Regions from separate parts of the Homo sapiens genome. Here region 2 is linked to region 1. The links come from fine-mapping of genetic effects on gene expression. A gene starts in region 1. The other region holds a variant in brackets. All regions are shown on one strand. Distances are from middle to middle.

What was found. PIP is the estimated chance that this variant, and not a neighbour inherited with it, causes the effect.
Region 2: its variant is fine-mapped to the expression of CTNNA2 in pancreas (GTEx, PIP above 0.99).

Annotation. Positions count from the first base shown.
Region 1 is chr2:79,508,260-79,516,600 of GRCh38, reverse strand. It overlaps CTNNA2 (catenin alpha 2), which reads right to left and starts at 3,550. Exons shown (of 19, transcript NM_001282597.3): 1 at 3,394-3,550.
Region 2 is chr2:79,210,990-79,219,330 of GRCh38, reverse strand. It overlaps a transcript of CTNNA2 not described here. Among named protein-coding and RNA genes, the nearest start is that of REG3A, 55 kb to the right of the region's middle. The variant G/A (reference allele first, on the strand shown) is at 4,600.

The DNA of each region.
Region 1 (8,341 bases):
TAACCCAGTGATAGTATAATTACTCTGACTGTATGTACTCTACCTTTCAATACATTCACCTGTATGCCAAATCTTCCAGTAAATAGTCTCTCTAATGTTCTTCAAACACACCATGCCTTTTCCTCCCTCTCTGCTTTTGTTCCAGCCCACCCTGCATGAAATCATTCCCAGGAGTCTCTGTCCAAGCTCCAGTGCTACTACCAAATATAATATTTTCCCAGCTACACAGACACCCGTCTTCTTCCCAATTCCTCTAGTACTTACTTGCGCTTCTGTCTTTCTAGTACATAATCATATATGGTCTTGGAATGTGTTTAAGTGATTTCTCCTAATTATAATAATGTTTACTTAATACATGTTTTGTTTGTACCAAGTACTGAGCTAAACACATTTAACCTTTAAAGCAAGCCCATGAATCAGAGTCCCTTACAATTTTCATTTTATAGATGAAAAAACAGATTTAAATTGTACACAAGGACATGATCCTCCTAAGAACTAGAGCCTGTACTCACATCTAAAGCTGTCTCCAAAGATCTTGTTACTTGCCACTGTGAAATAGGACCTCATGCAAATGCCTGTTCTCCTCAACTAGACTGTAAGCTGAGGTCAAAGAGAGTGTCTTTTACTTCTTTCTACTTTCTTGGAATGCCTCACACCACTCAGCCTAGGGTTAGGCAGGTGTTAAGAGCTCTGAGGGAGGGAGACACAGAGAATATATCCGGAATACATTTTACAGGGGTCCATAAGATCTTCTATTGGCTCTTTATTGTATCAAGTATTTTTAAAGGTCCAGTCAACTAAAGACAGAAGCCTCTAGAAATGAAATTCTTCAGAGGAAGTCAGTCTTTATCTGCAAACTGGATTATAGTCAAGGAGGCAAGCTGCTTTTCAAAGACACTAGTTGCTCTTCTAAAATGCACATTTTATTAATTGTACTCATCTCTCTTAAAATTTTGCTGTAAAAAAATGTTACTTTGTTTGCTAGTTCTTTAATAACTTGGTATGTTTTGTTTCCACTCAGTGGACTAATGTTTACAAAGGAGGCAAGTGAAAAGTACCTGTGTTTCTATACTAAGCACAGTATCAAAAACTGGGGCATACACCCACACCACTCTGCAGAAAAACTGCAACAAAGAAAGAGCAAAGCCCATAGAGGGGCTGCCACCTCCCCACATTCACAACTCTGAAGCCCCACAAAGAACAGCAGACATACTGGCAGGGGAAAAGTCTTTTGAAAGAAATTTGGACAAAACTAACTTATTATGCTCATGTATAATTAACATGACAGTCTTTCACTTGTTTCACGGTATTCTAGGGAAAGGAACACCAACAAGGAAAACACTCCTATCTACAAGTTCACTATTAAGTAATGCAAGCATTCCAATACACACAGGGTTGACTGCAATCTGCATCAGGATGTTGGTAACACTGGTAATTCAACCAAGCTTTAGTTACATGGCTGAAGAGTCAGCCAAGCCATTAATGGAATTGCATTCCTACCATGGGGAGTTGAAGGAGTCCATCACTCCTAATATTACACACTTCCCCAGCACTGACTCAGGTGATTAACTATCAGCTCTTCATCAAATCAGCACTCAATCACTTAGGAAGGCAATTCTCTTCATCTCAACTCCTGCTTTACACTCCCATAAAATGCAAAACTGCATATTGCACTACTGTCATATAATAATTTAAATGAAAAGAAAAAAATCAATAATGTGTTCCACAGCATAGTGTCTTACTGGCAACTTCAAAGAATCCACCATTAATTTTGGTCCCTCACACATACTCCTTAAACACAAAACACAGCTATTCTAAAGATATTAAGGTTTTTTGGTCTGTTGTTTTAGGAGAATATAAATAGAACAAAATATAGGCTTCAAAATATCCATTTTTGATTTATACTTACACTGTTGGACCCTTCTGAGATGATAAATATGCTAAACATTCTGAGGCATGGCTGTCCCGCCATGTAAAAATAAACTTTACAGCAGCAATGCTAACAGAAAGAATTGTCAAATTGCCAATAACATGTATAATGTAAGGGGTTAGAATGCAAGCTGAAGAGAGCAAGGTAAATTATAGCATTCTGTGAAAATAAGTGATGTAAAACCAACAGCAATTTTAAATTATTAACAATGGTTCCGAAGCTAATTCAACTTTTCCATTGGTGTAAGCCACAAACAGAATCACACAGCATGTTTCTCTTTAAACATCTTCAGGGGTCCTACGAGGTGGGTGAAAATGGGTAAGGGTGTCTGTTAAAGGCTCTAATGCAGCTAATGCCATCTAAATGGTATATTTACAAGCCTGTGGAGTATAACCTCATTTCTCCAAAACTGTCTAACCATTATCCTACTTGAGAAGTTAACCCATGATGAACAAAAGTACCTCTCTTCCACCCTTCTGCTCCCTATTTTCCCAAACCTTTCTATCTTGGTATTTTGTATGCTGAGCAAAACATTCCATAAATAATGCTGTGGTGCACAGGCATTAAAGTTTAGAGAGTTTCTGCCTTTGAAGTAGGTAGTGACAGGACCAAGGACACACGGGTTCAATTCCAAGCCAAATATGAGGCGGGTGGTTTGAAAATGTCAAACCAAAGAGGCCTAGGGGAAAAGAACACAAGCTTCCACTGCCACCTCCCTTCCTCTCCCCTCCCCTTTTTCTCTCTTGTTCCTTTCCTCTCTTCTCCTTTTTCGTTGTGGTTTCTCACGGAGACAATCAAAGCAGGGAAGGCTGGATTTTAAATTGGTGAGACACACACTGGAAATATGTAATTCCCAGAAGAAAAAAAGAAACTGCTGAAGAGGGGTATGGGGGCTGTTGGCAGCATGTCCAAGTGACAACCCTCCCCACCCCCACCCTAATATAGCACAAATCCACAGATTCTTCTTCGATCCTCTTCTCCCTCCAGTTCCCAGTACTCTACCCAACTTGACCCTTCATCCTAAAAATTTAGGAATCTGCAGGGCACCCGCTGTTTAAGAGTGTGTCTCTCAGTATATGCACCCAATTTTCTGGAACCCCTGAATCCGGACAGTTGTAGCAGGCAAGGGATGCTCCCACCCTCCCACCGGGGAAGAGGTAAGAAAGGGGGGAAGAAGAGATGGAGACAAGAGGAAAGGGATGCAGAGCTGTGCTCTAGGGCGAGTGGCTGCAAGGAAGACGGGGAAGAAAGAAAGGGTGGGAAGGAAGTGGGGCTGGGAGAGAGGAAGAAAGGGATGAAAGAAAGGCTGGAAGGGAGAAAGGAGGGGAGAGGAGAGAGGGATGTTGGGAAGGATGAGGGAGGGAGGGTTGGGGAGCGGGGAGGGGGGAGGATGGAGAGGATGGGAGGGAGGTGGGGAGGGAGGGAGGCAGGCAGGGATGGAGGATGCTCTGCCCGGGACTCACCTCTGTGGGTCGGTGGGAGTTTCTCGCCTCCTCCTCTTTCTCGCCCGTTCCCAGCAGCTGGAGTGGTAATCACAGAAGGGACTGGAGAGGCGGCGGCAGGGACAAGGGCAGCAGCTGCTGCAGCCGCCTCTGGCCGAGGTGCGGTGCCGCCTGCTCTGCCCGCCCGCCTGGGTCTCCGCCTCACTCGGGGCTGGAAGCGAAGCCGCTCCCCCCTCCCCCCGCCCGCCCCGCGTCCTGCCCAAGCGCGAGCGGCAGCGGCCCGGATCGCCGCTAGGGGAGGCAGCCAGTGCGCATGCGCGGCCGCTTGCTCGCTCGCGCGCCCCCGCGGTCCCCGTGGCTCCGCGGCGCCTGGAAAGGCACCGGGCATCGAGGGGTGGCTGGGTGGGGGGCCGCGGGCGCGCGCGGCCTGGGGAGCGCCCGAAAGGGCGGGGCGGGGTAGGGCGGAGCTCTGGAGGCGCGGCAGGCTCGGCGCCGCAGGTGGGGGGAGGGGACGGCGGCGAAGGGGCACCGCCGTAGGGCGCAGGTGCCGTGTCCATGACAACCGCGTTACCCTGCGGGCGGGGACCCGGAGCTGAATCGCCGGAGTCGCGAGGCCCGGGGAGAGGGACCGGGTGCGGGAGCGGGCAGGATAGGGGCGGGGGGGATAGGGGTGTCGCAGAGTAGGAAAGGAGGGCCAGCCCAGCAGGGGTCCGACACGTGGCAGGAGGAGGGCAGGGCCAGAGTGCTGCAAAGGTAGTGACTGCCGCGGAAGGGAGGTTTGTTGGGATGTGGAGTCCCGAGGGGAGAGGAAGGGAGATTTGGACTTTAAAAGAACCTAGAAGAGGATGGAATTGTTAAAACAACTGGAATATTTGCTCATTTAACAAGCCTTTGTTGAATATTTTCTCCGTGGAAGGCATTGTGATTCTTTTCTTGATTCAGTGGATATTACTTGGCTCCTAGTTTGTACCAGACACTGTACTTAGGCATTTTGAGATATCCAAAAATGTTCGTCCTCTGAGAGGTTATACTGTAGTTGGGGAACTTACATAGCTAGGGCAGGGAGTGTTTGCGCCGCCAGCCATCGGCAGCTGGGACTCGATGTTGCTGGAATGTAACTGTTACAGAGGTGCTAACAGTGAAAAAGGTACACAGCTACATCAGATGAGAAATATAAGTTACAGTCATCTTTGTTCTGCCACAGTGCCAAATGACAATTTTGTTTTGTTTTAAATCAAGAGAGAGAAACAAAAAGAAAATCTGTGGAAGTTTAGTATGACACAACCGACGCTAAGTTCACAACATGCTACCTGTTTGGTATCCTAGTCCACTAGCATCAGTGCGTGTGTTCATGCCGACACTTGGATGGCTTTATGTCACTTAGTGCATGCATTTTTTAAATTCTCCTTCATCAATGGCTATGCCATTGATATTTTTCCCTCCCCCCTTTTGCTTCCAAGTTCGCGTCTGCAATTGTTTGAAAATTACATAAAATCCTACTATTTTTAATTCTCTCTAGGGAATGACTGGAGAGGGATACCTCTGTCCATGCCTCTATCTTTCTCTCCCAATATCTTTTTGGCTTTCTTTTTTCTTGTCCCCACCACTTTACCAATTTAAAAATTCCTGGGAAAAAGTGAACAGGAGTCACCGGATATTGGCTTAAGAAGAATCTTAGCACGCAACCATGTTTCAGGACCACGGACAGTGACACCGCGTGCTCTTACCACCTAGCGTTTTTCTTAGACTGCCTATAGAAACAGGAGAAACACGCTAAAGGCACACGATGTGCTTCATGAAGTGCCGAGCGCCAAATGATTTGTGCCAAAAGGTATAAAGAGTGGAGAATGAAAAGTGCATACTATGGACTGGAGTAGGTAGGAAGGAGGTAGGCCTTCAGCTGAATTTTGAAGCATGAATAAGATTTAGAGAGGCATCACAAGTCCCTGATGTGGTAAGATGTGGTAAGCACCAGCGAGGTGCTTAAATAAAAAGGGATACTGCATACAGTGTCATTCCAGAGGCAGAAGACACCTATGAATTTGAATGGTCCAAGAATCTGGAAAGAGTAAAGTTGTCCTAGTCAAATGAGGTAGAGCATGCACGTAAGAATTGACTTTTTAAAAAAATGATTATTGTGATCTTTTTCATACTCTGGTCAGGCCTGAGGGAATAAACTAAAAACTACAGGCCAAAGAGTGACCAGACAAATTTATCTCTTTAAGTTCCAAGGATTCATGTATAGTTTTTTGTATTGTTGTAATTAGGCTTACATTTATAATTTTTGTTTTAATTGCAATTAAATAATGTAGACCACAAAAGAAAAATAATGTAAACCAAGTGCTGTCTAGTCAAAATGAGATTTGTCTTGTTTGTTGTTTTGTAGTGACTTTCAAAACTGTAGAATATTATCGAGAGACATTTAAAAGTCATTTCTAAAATATTTGTAAGCTTTTAGTTCATGCAATTGCTTTAAATTAGAGTTATTAAAAAACCAGCATAAAAGCCATCTTTGATTTCTCAGACCCTTGGTCTCCCTCAGTTCTTCAAAATACATCAAACTGTGGTCTGTCAATCAGACAGTGATAAGAAATTACTCAGGCAATGGGTTTCAGTCACCAGCAGGCAAATGGCAGCTGAGATTTTTGTTCCCTGCTGCCAAGGAATTTACTAACTCTTTTATGTTTTGAATAAAGGGGAACCCTCAACCCTGTCTACCCTATGGAAAATCCAAATTGAATGTTACTACAGCCATATTTATTTCCCTCTGATAACAGTCTAAATATGCTTGTATAAATAATGGCTATTATTAGATGCTAAAATGCTATCATGTTGTTTGTCCCCATTGTAAACTAAGGGGATTTTTTAAAACCCTTATTTCTTTTGTTTTGAGTCTGCTTGTGAATCTGATTGTTTTTGATTTTCTTGATTTAAGTGTTGTCCTTCATTTCAATGACATAAACATATACAGTCCTCAGAAAAACAAGCAATTTTCTTCTTTCCCTCACTCATATTAAAAATTTATGCCAACATAAATATCAAACAAAAGGATCATTGTTAAAGGTATGGCATTGTGTTCAAATGCAGAAGATCCTGTATGTAATTATAATACAATTTAATGTGCAATCAAATGACATCTAGATTTTTAGGATACTCCAAGCCAATATTGGCATCTTAAGTAAAATTTTCTGTATTGCTTATTCATTTAAATGTCAGGTCTCTACACACTAGGACCCTAATTCAGTCTGTCAGCTCCAGAAATTTCACTATCAAGCCCTCCTGAGCAATTTCATTGCTTTAATAGACTTTATTTTTTGGAGCAGTTTTAGGTTCACAGAAAAATTGAGTGAGAAGTACAAAGAGTTTTCATATACCTCCGGCCCCCACAAGGGCACGACTCCCTGTGATCAACCCCTGGACCACAGTAGCATGTTTGTTACAATTGGTGAACCTATATTGACACATCATCATCACCAAAGTCCATAGTTTACATCAGAGTTCACTCTTGGTTTTGTACATTTTGGGGGTTTTGAAAGAAGTATAACGACATGTATCCACCACTATGGTATCATACTAGTTTTACTCACTAAAAATACTCTGTGTTCTGTCTATTCTTCTCTTTCTTGCTCCTAACCCCTGGAAACCATTGGTGTTTTTCCTGTCTCCAAGTTTTGCCTTCTCCAGAATGTCATAGAGTTGGGGTCATGCAATATGTAGCCTTTTCAGATTGGCTTCTTTCACTTAGTAATATGCATGTAAGATTCCACCATGTATTTTCATGGCTTGACAGCTCTGTTTTTAGCACTGAATAATATTCAGTTGTCTCTATTTACCACAACTTATCCACTCACCTACAGAAGGTCATCTAGATTGCTTCCAAGTTTTGGCAATTATGAATAAAGATGCTATAGCAATTTCATCTTTTAAGGACCTCCTAAATATTTCAGACCCTGTCACTATATTTATTATGTATCAATTGAACCCCTGGATTTCTCCTCATATGGTCCAGCTTTTTCCTACAAATCTAGCTGCAGATTTCTTCTCTTGTCTGAGAAACAACCAATGAAACTTTCACTTTTGTCGTTTTATGTATTCCTTTTACTATTAAAAAATTAAAATAACTTGTTTTAAGTTTTTTGTTTTGTACCAGTAGTTTCTAACTCTAATTTTCATTTTTTCAAACATATTTATCATTTGTATCCCTAGGTAATTGTTTATATATATATATATATATATATATATATATATATATATATATATATATATATATATACTGCAATGGTGAATATATATATATGTTTTCAAGTAAACAGAATGAGTGTTTTGGGATCCATGTGTGTAATTGTTTTATCTTTTGCTTGTTGAAACATTTCAACCATAACCTTATATAGGTAGAATGTACCATATTCTAGTTTGTGACATTGGACAAGTTTTTTAATGTCTATGACACTCAGTTTTCCAGTCTGCAAAATGGAGGCAATTTTTATCTATCTTCATGACTTTCTTGTGAGAATTTTATGAAATAATACTTGACATGTTTTAGCACACTGTTGTCCATAAATAGAGCTGTATACTTGCTTTAATTAATACTTCTAATATCAATGAGTCAATTAATCAAGCAGTAAAATAATATTATTCCTCAGTGTCTTTTGACCAATTTGAATCTGTTTCTATCATCTTTTATTTCCAATTAATCTTTTTCTTTAAAAAGAAAGAATAAGCTTTAATATGTCTTCTCATAGTAATTGTATCTCTCTCATCTTCAGGTTCCCTAATAGATTTACTTTCCCTTTAGGAGAAAGCCGAGACTGCTGTCTGTTTAATACATTTTGAAATTGTGTCATTTTACTCTCAATTGTCACCCTGGAGCATGTTTTTCCTGTATCTGCTCTATGGAAGAATAGTTTCAGTCTTAATTCTTTCAAAAGCAAATGACTGAAGTCCAATTTAAGTTTTGAGCAAAAAGGAA
Region 2 (8,341 bases), 300 kb after region 1:
AGATTGTTTTCCCATTTAAAAAGAGTGGAGGCTTTAGAAAGTGCTGATTCTGATTCTTTCTATAATTTATAACACTGAACAAATGGAAACATTTAAATGTTCAGCAACAGAATATTGGTCATCTAAATTGTGATATAAATGATATAATGAAATATTACATAGCCATTAAGAATAATGTTTTCTTAGAATGTGAAGGATGCTCATGGTACAATTTTAGGGAAAAAATAGGAGGAAGTAAAGGCGTTTACATATGTATAAATACAAATATGAAATATATCATTCAAAATGTGGCAATTTTGTACTATACATACATACACACACCCTTGCATAGAAAGAAAGACATCATAATATTACCAGAGATTAACTATGAGTGGTAAAATTATGGAGGATTTTATTTTCCTTTTAGAACTTTCCTTTATTTTCCATTTTTCTCCCAAGATTAGAAAACAAGTATCAATCAAAAATTGCCATAAAAACAGTATAAGTTTTTGAACTTTAGCAAAAAGTTACACAATGTCTGAAAGATTCTGGTAATTCACTTTTTGAAAAACTTTAAAGCAGAATACACTCATAATTATGCATAATTATTATCACCAACGCAGTTTCCAAGATCCGTGATTTGTACCATGTTGCTCAGGCCTGCGATGGTGGTCTCTGATCCTCCCTATAGTGCTACAGTAGTTTAATACCTGAACCCAGTGTTCCATTCTCCATGCAAACATTAGGAAGCAAACTGGCAACACTTATATTGTCAAAACTGTCCTAAATGAGAGTCTCTTCCGAGTCCCTACTGCTACTCCTTAACTCACAAACATTCTTTTTTCACTGACACTTACAGAAATGAAGGAAGCTGTGTGCAGTGGCTCACGCCTATAATCCCAGCTCTTTGGGAGGCTGAGGCAGGAGGACTGCTTGAGGCCAGGAGTTCACGACCAGCCTGGGCAATGTAGCAAGATCCTGTCTCTAAAAAAAAAAAAAATACACACACACACACACACACACACACACACACACACACAAAGTTCATGAAGATTCTGGTGCCTGGCTTAGGAAAGGAAGCTCAGACTCTACTGGACCCCTGTGCTTCTGTCTCTCCACTTCCTGCCTTTGGGCAGGGTGATGGAAGCCCTAGATGCAGCAGGCAGCCTGCTCTGTGGGAGAGGTGGGCTTGGCTGGGATCAGAGCCTTACCAATTTCTAGGCTTATACCTGATGTTCTGTAAGCTTCAAGTTTTTTATTTCTAAAATGGAGGAAGCATGGGAGGCTTTTGTGGGATTGCAACACTTTAAGTGAATTGCCTGAATCATGGAAGAAATAGGTTTTTATTTTATTATGTAGATGTTCATTCAATTAACAACCTCCTTTTTCCTCCTTTCATCAAATATTTTAAGCATGTGCTCCGTACCTGCTATGTGGTGTCACAAGCTAGTTAAAGAAGTAAACAACAATGTTTGCCCTCAAGAAGTTTAGTGTCTAGACCTGGGAGAGAGAAAATAGGAATTGGGTAGATAGGATGTTAGAATGAGGTTTTGTGTTTATCTGGCTAAGTCAGGCTATATTTTCAATTTGTGTAGCTGTAGGTGTCATAGGCTTTGATTTCCTCTAGAATCCTTGTTTTACTTTTGTCAGGCCTCTGAGCCCAAGCTAAGCCATCATATTCCCTGTGACCTGCACGTACACATCCAGATGACTGGTTCCTGCCTTAACTGATGACATTCCACTACAAAAGAAATGAAAATGGCCTGTTCCTGCCTTAACTCCTTGTGAAATTCCTTCTCCTGGCTCATCCTGGCTCAAAAGCTCCCCTACTGAGCACCTTGTGGCCCCCACTCCTGCCCGCCAGAGAACCCCCCTTTGACTGTAATTTTCCTTTACCTACCCAAATCTTATAAAACGGCCCCACCTCTATCTCCCTTCACTGACTCTCTTTTCAGACTCAGCCCCCCTGCACCCAGGTGAAATAAACAGCTTTATTGCTCACACAAAGCCTGTTTGGTGGTCTCTTCACACGGACTCACATGAAATTTGGTGCCGTGACTCGGATCGGGGGACCTCCCTTGGGGGATCAATCCCCTGTCCTCCTGCTCTTTGCTCCGTGAAAAAGATCCACTTACGATCTCAGGGCCTCAGACCCACCAGCCCAAGGAACATCTCACCAATTTTAAATCAGGTAAGCGTCCTTTTCTTACTCTCTTCTCCAACCTCTCTCACTATCCCTCAACCACTATCTCCTTTCAATATTGGCGCCACCCTTCAATCTCTCCCTTCTCTTAATTTCAATTCCTTTCATTTTCTGGTAGAGACAAAGGAGACACGTTTTATCCATGGACCCAAAACTCAGGCACCAGTCATGGACTCAGGAAGGCAGCCTTCCCTTGGTGTTTAATCATTGCAGGGACGCCTCTCTGATTATTTACCCACGTTTCAGAGGTGTCTGACCACGTGGGGATGCCTGCCTTGGTCCTTCACCCTTAGTGGCAAGTACTGCAGTTCTGGGGGGCATGAACCCCCCAACCCCTTCTCTCCATGTCTCTACCCCTTCTCTGCTTTTCTGGGGGCAAGAACCCCCCAACCCCTTCTTCACCCTTAGCTGCAAGTACCGCTTTTCTAGGGGGCAAGAACCCCCCAACCCCTTCTCCTTCACCCTTAGCCACAAGTACCGCTTTTCTAGGGAGCAAGAACCCCCCAACCCCTTCTCTGCATGTCTCTACCCCTTCTCTGCTTTTCTGGGGACAAGAACCCCCTGATCCCTTATTTCCATGACTCGACCCCTTATCTCTGTGCCCCAATCCCTTATTTCTGCACCCCAACCTCTTATCTCTGTGCCCCGATCCCTTATTTCCATGCCCCAACCTCTTATCTCTGTGCCCTGATCCCTTATTTCCATGCTCCGACCTCTTATCTCTGCACCCCAACCCTTTATTTCCGCACCCCGACCACTTTCCTGCTTTTCTGGAGGGTAAGAACCCCCAAACCCCTTCCCTCCGTGTCTCTCTCTTTTCTCTAGGCTTGCCTCCTTCATTATGGGCAACCTTCCACCCTCCATTCCTCCTTCTTCTCCCTTAGCCTGTGTTCTTAAAAACCTAAAACCTCTTCAACTCACACCTGACCTAAAACCTAAATGCCTTATTTTCTTCTACAATGCCGCTTGACCCCAATACAAACTTGACAGCCGTTCCAAATAGCCAGAAAATGGCACTTTCATTTTTTCCATCCTACAAGATCTAAATAATTCTTGTCGTAAAATAGGCAAATGGTCCGAGGTGCCTGACGTCCAGGCATTCTTTTACACATCAGTCCCTCCCTGGTCTCTGTTCCCAATGCAACTCGTCCCAAATCTTCCTTCTTTCCCTCCCACATGTCCCCTCAGTCCCAACCCCAAGCGTCACTGAGTCTTTCTAATCTTCCTTTTCTACTGACCCATCTGACCTCTCCCTTCCTCGCAAGGCCGAGCTAGGTCATAATTCTTCCTCAGCCTCTGCTCCTCCACCCTATAATCCTTTTATCACCTCCCCTCCTCACACCCGGTCTGGCTTACAGTTTCGTTCTGTGACTAGCCCTCCCCCACCTGCCCAGCAATTTCCTCTTAAAAAGGTGGCTAGAGCTAAAGGCATAGTCAAGGTTAATGCTCCTTTTTTTAATCCCAAATCAGAGAGCGTTTAGGCTCTTTTTCATCAAATATAAAAACCCAGCCCAGTACATGACTCGTTTGACAGCAACCCTGAGACACTTTACAGCCCTAGACCCTAAAAGGTCAAAAGGTCGTCTTATTCTCAAAATACGTTTTATTACCCAATCTGCTCCTGACATTAAATAAAACTCCAAAAATTAAATTCCAGCCCTCAAACCCCACAACAGGACTTAATTAACCTCACCTTCGAGGTGTACAATAATAGACTAGAGGCAGCCAAATAGCAACATATTTCTCAGTTGCAATTCTTTGCCTCCACTGTGAGACAAACCCCAGCCACATCTCCAGCACACAAGAACTTCCAAACGCCTGAACCGCAGTGGCCAGGCGTTCCTCCAGGCCCGCCTCTCCCAGGAGCTTGCTACAAGTGCCAGAAATCTGGCAACCAGGCCAAGGAATGCCCACAGCCCAAGATTCCTCCTAAGCCACGTCCCATCTGTGCAGGACCCCACTGAAAATCGGACTGTTCAACTCACCTGGCAGCCACTCCCAGAGCCCCTGGAACTCTGGCCCAAGGCGCTCTGACTGACTCCTTCCCAGATCTTCTCAGCTTAGCAGCTGAAGACTGACGCTGCCCGATCGCCTCAGAAGCCCCCTAGACCATCACGGACGCCGAGCTTCAGGTGACTCTCACAGTGGAAGGTAAGTCCGTCCCCTTCTTAATCAATACGGAGGCTACCCACTCCACATTACCTTCTTTTCAAGGGCCTGTTTCCCTTGCCTCCAGAACTGTTGTGGGTATTGACGGCCAGGCTTCTAAACCTCTTAAAACTCCCCAACTCTGGTGCCAACTTAGACAATACTTTTATGCACTCTTTTTTACTTATCCCCACCTGCCCAGTTCCCTTATTAGGCCGAGATATTTTAACCAAATTATCTGCTTCCCTGACTATTCTTGGACTACAGCC[G/A]CATCTCACTGCCGCCCTTTTCCCCAACCCAAAGCCTCCTTTGCGTCTTCCTCTCGTATCCCCCCACCTTACCCACAAGCATAGGACATCTCTACTCCTTCCCTGGCAACTGATCACAGGCCCATTACCATCCCATTAAAACCTAATCACCCTTACCCCGCTCAATGCCAATATCCCATCCCATAGCACGCTTTAAAAGGATTAAAGCCTGTTATCACTCGCCTGTTATAGCATGGCCTTTTAAAGCCTATAAACTTTCCTTACAATTTCCCCATTTTACCTGTCCTAGAACCAGACGAGCCTTACAGGTTAGTTCAGGATCTGCCCCTTATCAACCAAATTGTTTATACTCTCATATCCTCAATACCTCCCTCCACAATCCATTATTCTGTTCTAGATCTCAAACATGCTTTCTTTACTATTTCTTTGCACCCTTCATCCCAGCCTCTCTTCGCTTTCACTTGGACTGACCCTGACACCCATCAGGCTCAGCAAATTACCTGGGCTATACTGCTGCAAAGCTTCACAGACAGCCCCCATTACTTCAGTCAAGCCTAAATTTCTTCCTCATCTGTTACCTATCTTGGCATAATTCTCGTAAAAACACATGTGCTCTCCCTGCTGATTGTGTCCGACTAATCTCCCAAACCTCAATCCCTTCTACAAAACAACAACTCCTTTCCTTCCTAGGCATAGTTAGTGCGGTCAGAATTCTTACACAAGAGCCAGGACCCCACCCTGTAGTGTTTCTGTCCAAACAACTTGACCTTACTGTTTTAGCCTAGCCCTCATGTCTGCGTGCAGCGGCTGCCGCTGCTTTAATACTTTTAGAGGCCCTAAAAATCACAAACTATGCTCAACTCACTCTCTACAGTTCTCATAACTTCCAAAATCTGTTTTCTTCCTCATACCTGACGCATATACTTTCTGCTTCCTGGCTCCTTCAGCTATACTCACTCTTTGTTGAGTTTCCCACAATTACCATTGTTCCTTGCCCGGACTTCAATCCAGCCTCCCACATTATTCTGGATACCACAGCTGACCCTCATGACTATATCTGTCTGATCCACCTGACATTCACCCAATTTCCCCATGTTTCCTTATTTCCTGTTCCTCACTCTGATCACATTTAGTTTATTGATGGCGGTTCCACCAGGCCTAATCGCCACTCACCAGCAAAGGCAGGCTATGCTATAGTATCTTCCACATCTATCATTAAGGCTACTGCTCTGCTCTCCTCCACTACCTCTCAGCAAGCCGAACTAGTTGCCTTAACTCAAGCCCTCACTCTTGCAAAAGGACTAAACGTCAATATTTATACTGACTCTAAATATGCCTTCCATATCCTGCACCACCATGCAAGAGGTTTCCTCACTACACAAGGGTCCTCTATCATTAATGCCTCTTTAATAAAAACACTTCTCAAAGCTGCTTTACTTCCAAAGGAAGCTGGAGTCATTCACTGCAAAGGCCGTCGAAGGGCATCATCAGATCCCATCGCTCAGGACAATGCTTATGCTGATAAGATAGCTAAAAAAGCAGCTAGCATTCCAACTTATATCCCTCACTTTCAGTTTTTCTCCTTCTCATCTGGCCACTCCCACCTACTCCCCTGCTGAAACTTCCACCTATCAATCTCTTCCCACACAAGGCAAATGGTTCTTAGACCAAGGGAAATATCTCCTTCCAGCCTCACAGGCCCATTCTATTCTGTCGTCATTTCCTAACTTCTTCCATGTAGGTTACAAGCCACTAGCCCATCTCTTAGAACCTCTCATTTCCTTTGCATCATGGAAATCTATCCTCAAGGAAATCACTTCTCAGTGTTCCATCTGCTATTCTACTACTCCTCAGGGATTATTCAGGCCCACTCCCTTTCCCACACATCAAGCTCAAGGATTTGCCCCTGCCCAGGACTGGCAAATTAGCTTTACTCACATGCCCCGAGTCAGAAAACTAAAATACCTCTTAGTCTAGGTAGACACTTTCACTGGATAGGTAGAGGCCTTTCCTACAGGGTCTGAGAGGCCACCGCGGTCATTTCTTCCCTTCTGTCAGACATAATTACTCGGTTTGGCCTTCCCACCTCTACGCAGTCCGATAGTGGACCGGCCTTCATTAGTCAAATCAGCCAAGCAGTTTTTCGGGCTCTTAGTATTCAGTGAAACCTTTATATCCCTTACAGTCCTCAGTCTTCAGGAAAGGTAGAATGTACTATTGGTCTTTTAAAAACACACCTCACCAAGCTCAGCCACCAACTTAAAAAGGACTGGACAATACTTTTACCTCTTTCTTTTCTCAGAATTCAGGCCTGTCCTCAGAATGCTACAGGGTACAGCCCATTTGAGCTCCTGTATAGACGCTCCTTTTTATTAGGCCTCAGTGTCATTCCAGACACCAGACCAACTTGGACTGTGCCCCAAAAAACTTGTCATCCCTACTATCTTCTGTCTAGTCATACTCCTATTCACCGTTCTCAACTACTCATACATGCCCTGCTCTTGTTTACACTGCCGGTTTACACTGTTTCTCCAAGTCATCACAGCTGATATCTCCTGGTGCTATCCCCAAACTGCCACTCTTAACTCTTAAAGTAAATAAATAATCTTTGCTGGCAGGGCTATGCTGAACCTCCTTAGGCACTCTCTAATCAGATGTTCTGGGTCCTCCCAATTCTTAGACCTTTAATCCATTTAGTTTTTCAATTCATACAAAACCATATCCAGGCCATCATCAATAATTCTAAATGACAAATGTTTCTTCTAACAGTCCCACAATATCACCCCTTACCACAAAATCTTCCTTCAGTTTAATCTCTCCCACTCTAGGTTCCCGCGCCGCCCCTAATCCCGCTCGAAGCAGCCCTGAGAAACATCGCCCACTATCTCTCCATACCATCCCCCAAAATTGTTGCCATCCCAACACTTAACCACTATTTCATTTTATTTTTCTTATTAATATAAGAAGACAGGAATGTCATGCCTCTGAGCCCAAGCTAAGCCATCATATCCCATGTGACCTGCACGTACACATCCAGATGACTGGTTCCTGCCTTAACTGATGACATTCCACCACAAAAGAAATGAAAATGGCCTGTTCCTGCCTTAACTGATGACATTATCTTCTGAAATTCCTTCTCCTGGCTCATCCTGACTCAAAAGCTCCCCTACTGAGCATCTTGTGACCTCCACTCCTGCCCGCCAGAGAACAACCCCCCTTTGACTGTAATTTTCCTTTACCTACCCAAATCTTATAAAAAGGCCCCACCCCTATCTCCCTTCACTGACTCTCTTTTCAGACTCAGCCCGCCTGCACCCAGGTGAAATAAACAGCTTTACTGCTCACACAAAGCCTGTTTGGTGGTCTCTTCTCACGGACGCGCATGAAAAGTTTCCCTTGTTGTCTTGGAATAATACTCTAAAAACCCCTTCTTAAAGATAGTCTGTGTTTTTCAGCTCTCAGTTGTACAGTGTGCCGGAGACTTTCATACCCAGAGTACAATTACAGGTGGGGAAATAAATGGTTATCTTTACTAAAATGAGAAGGGAGAGTGTGAAAGGTAAGATTTAAACAAACATCCACTTAAAATCATGGATTCCTCCTCAAGAAGCTCAAATTTGAAGAGTATCTGAAATAAATGTAAGACCTAGAAATTGATTTATATGCTCTCAGTTTTGAATTCCAGTTTTCATTTTATATTTGGGAAGTTTCAGGTAGACAGGAAGTGGAAGCAGAGCCTCTA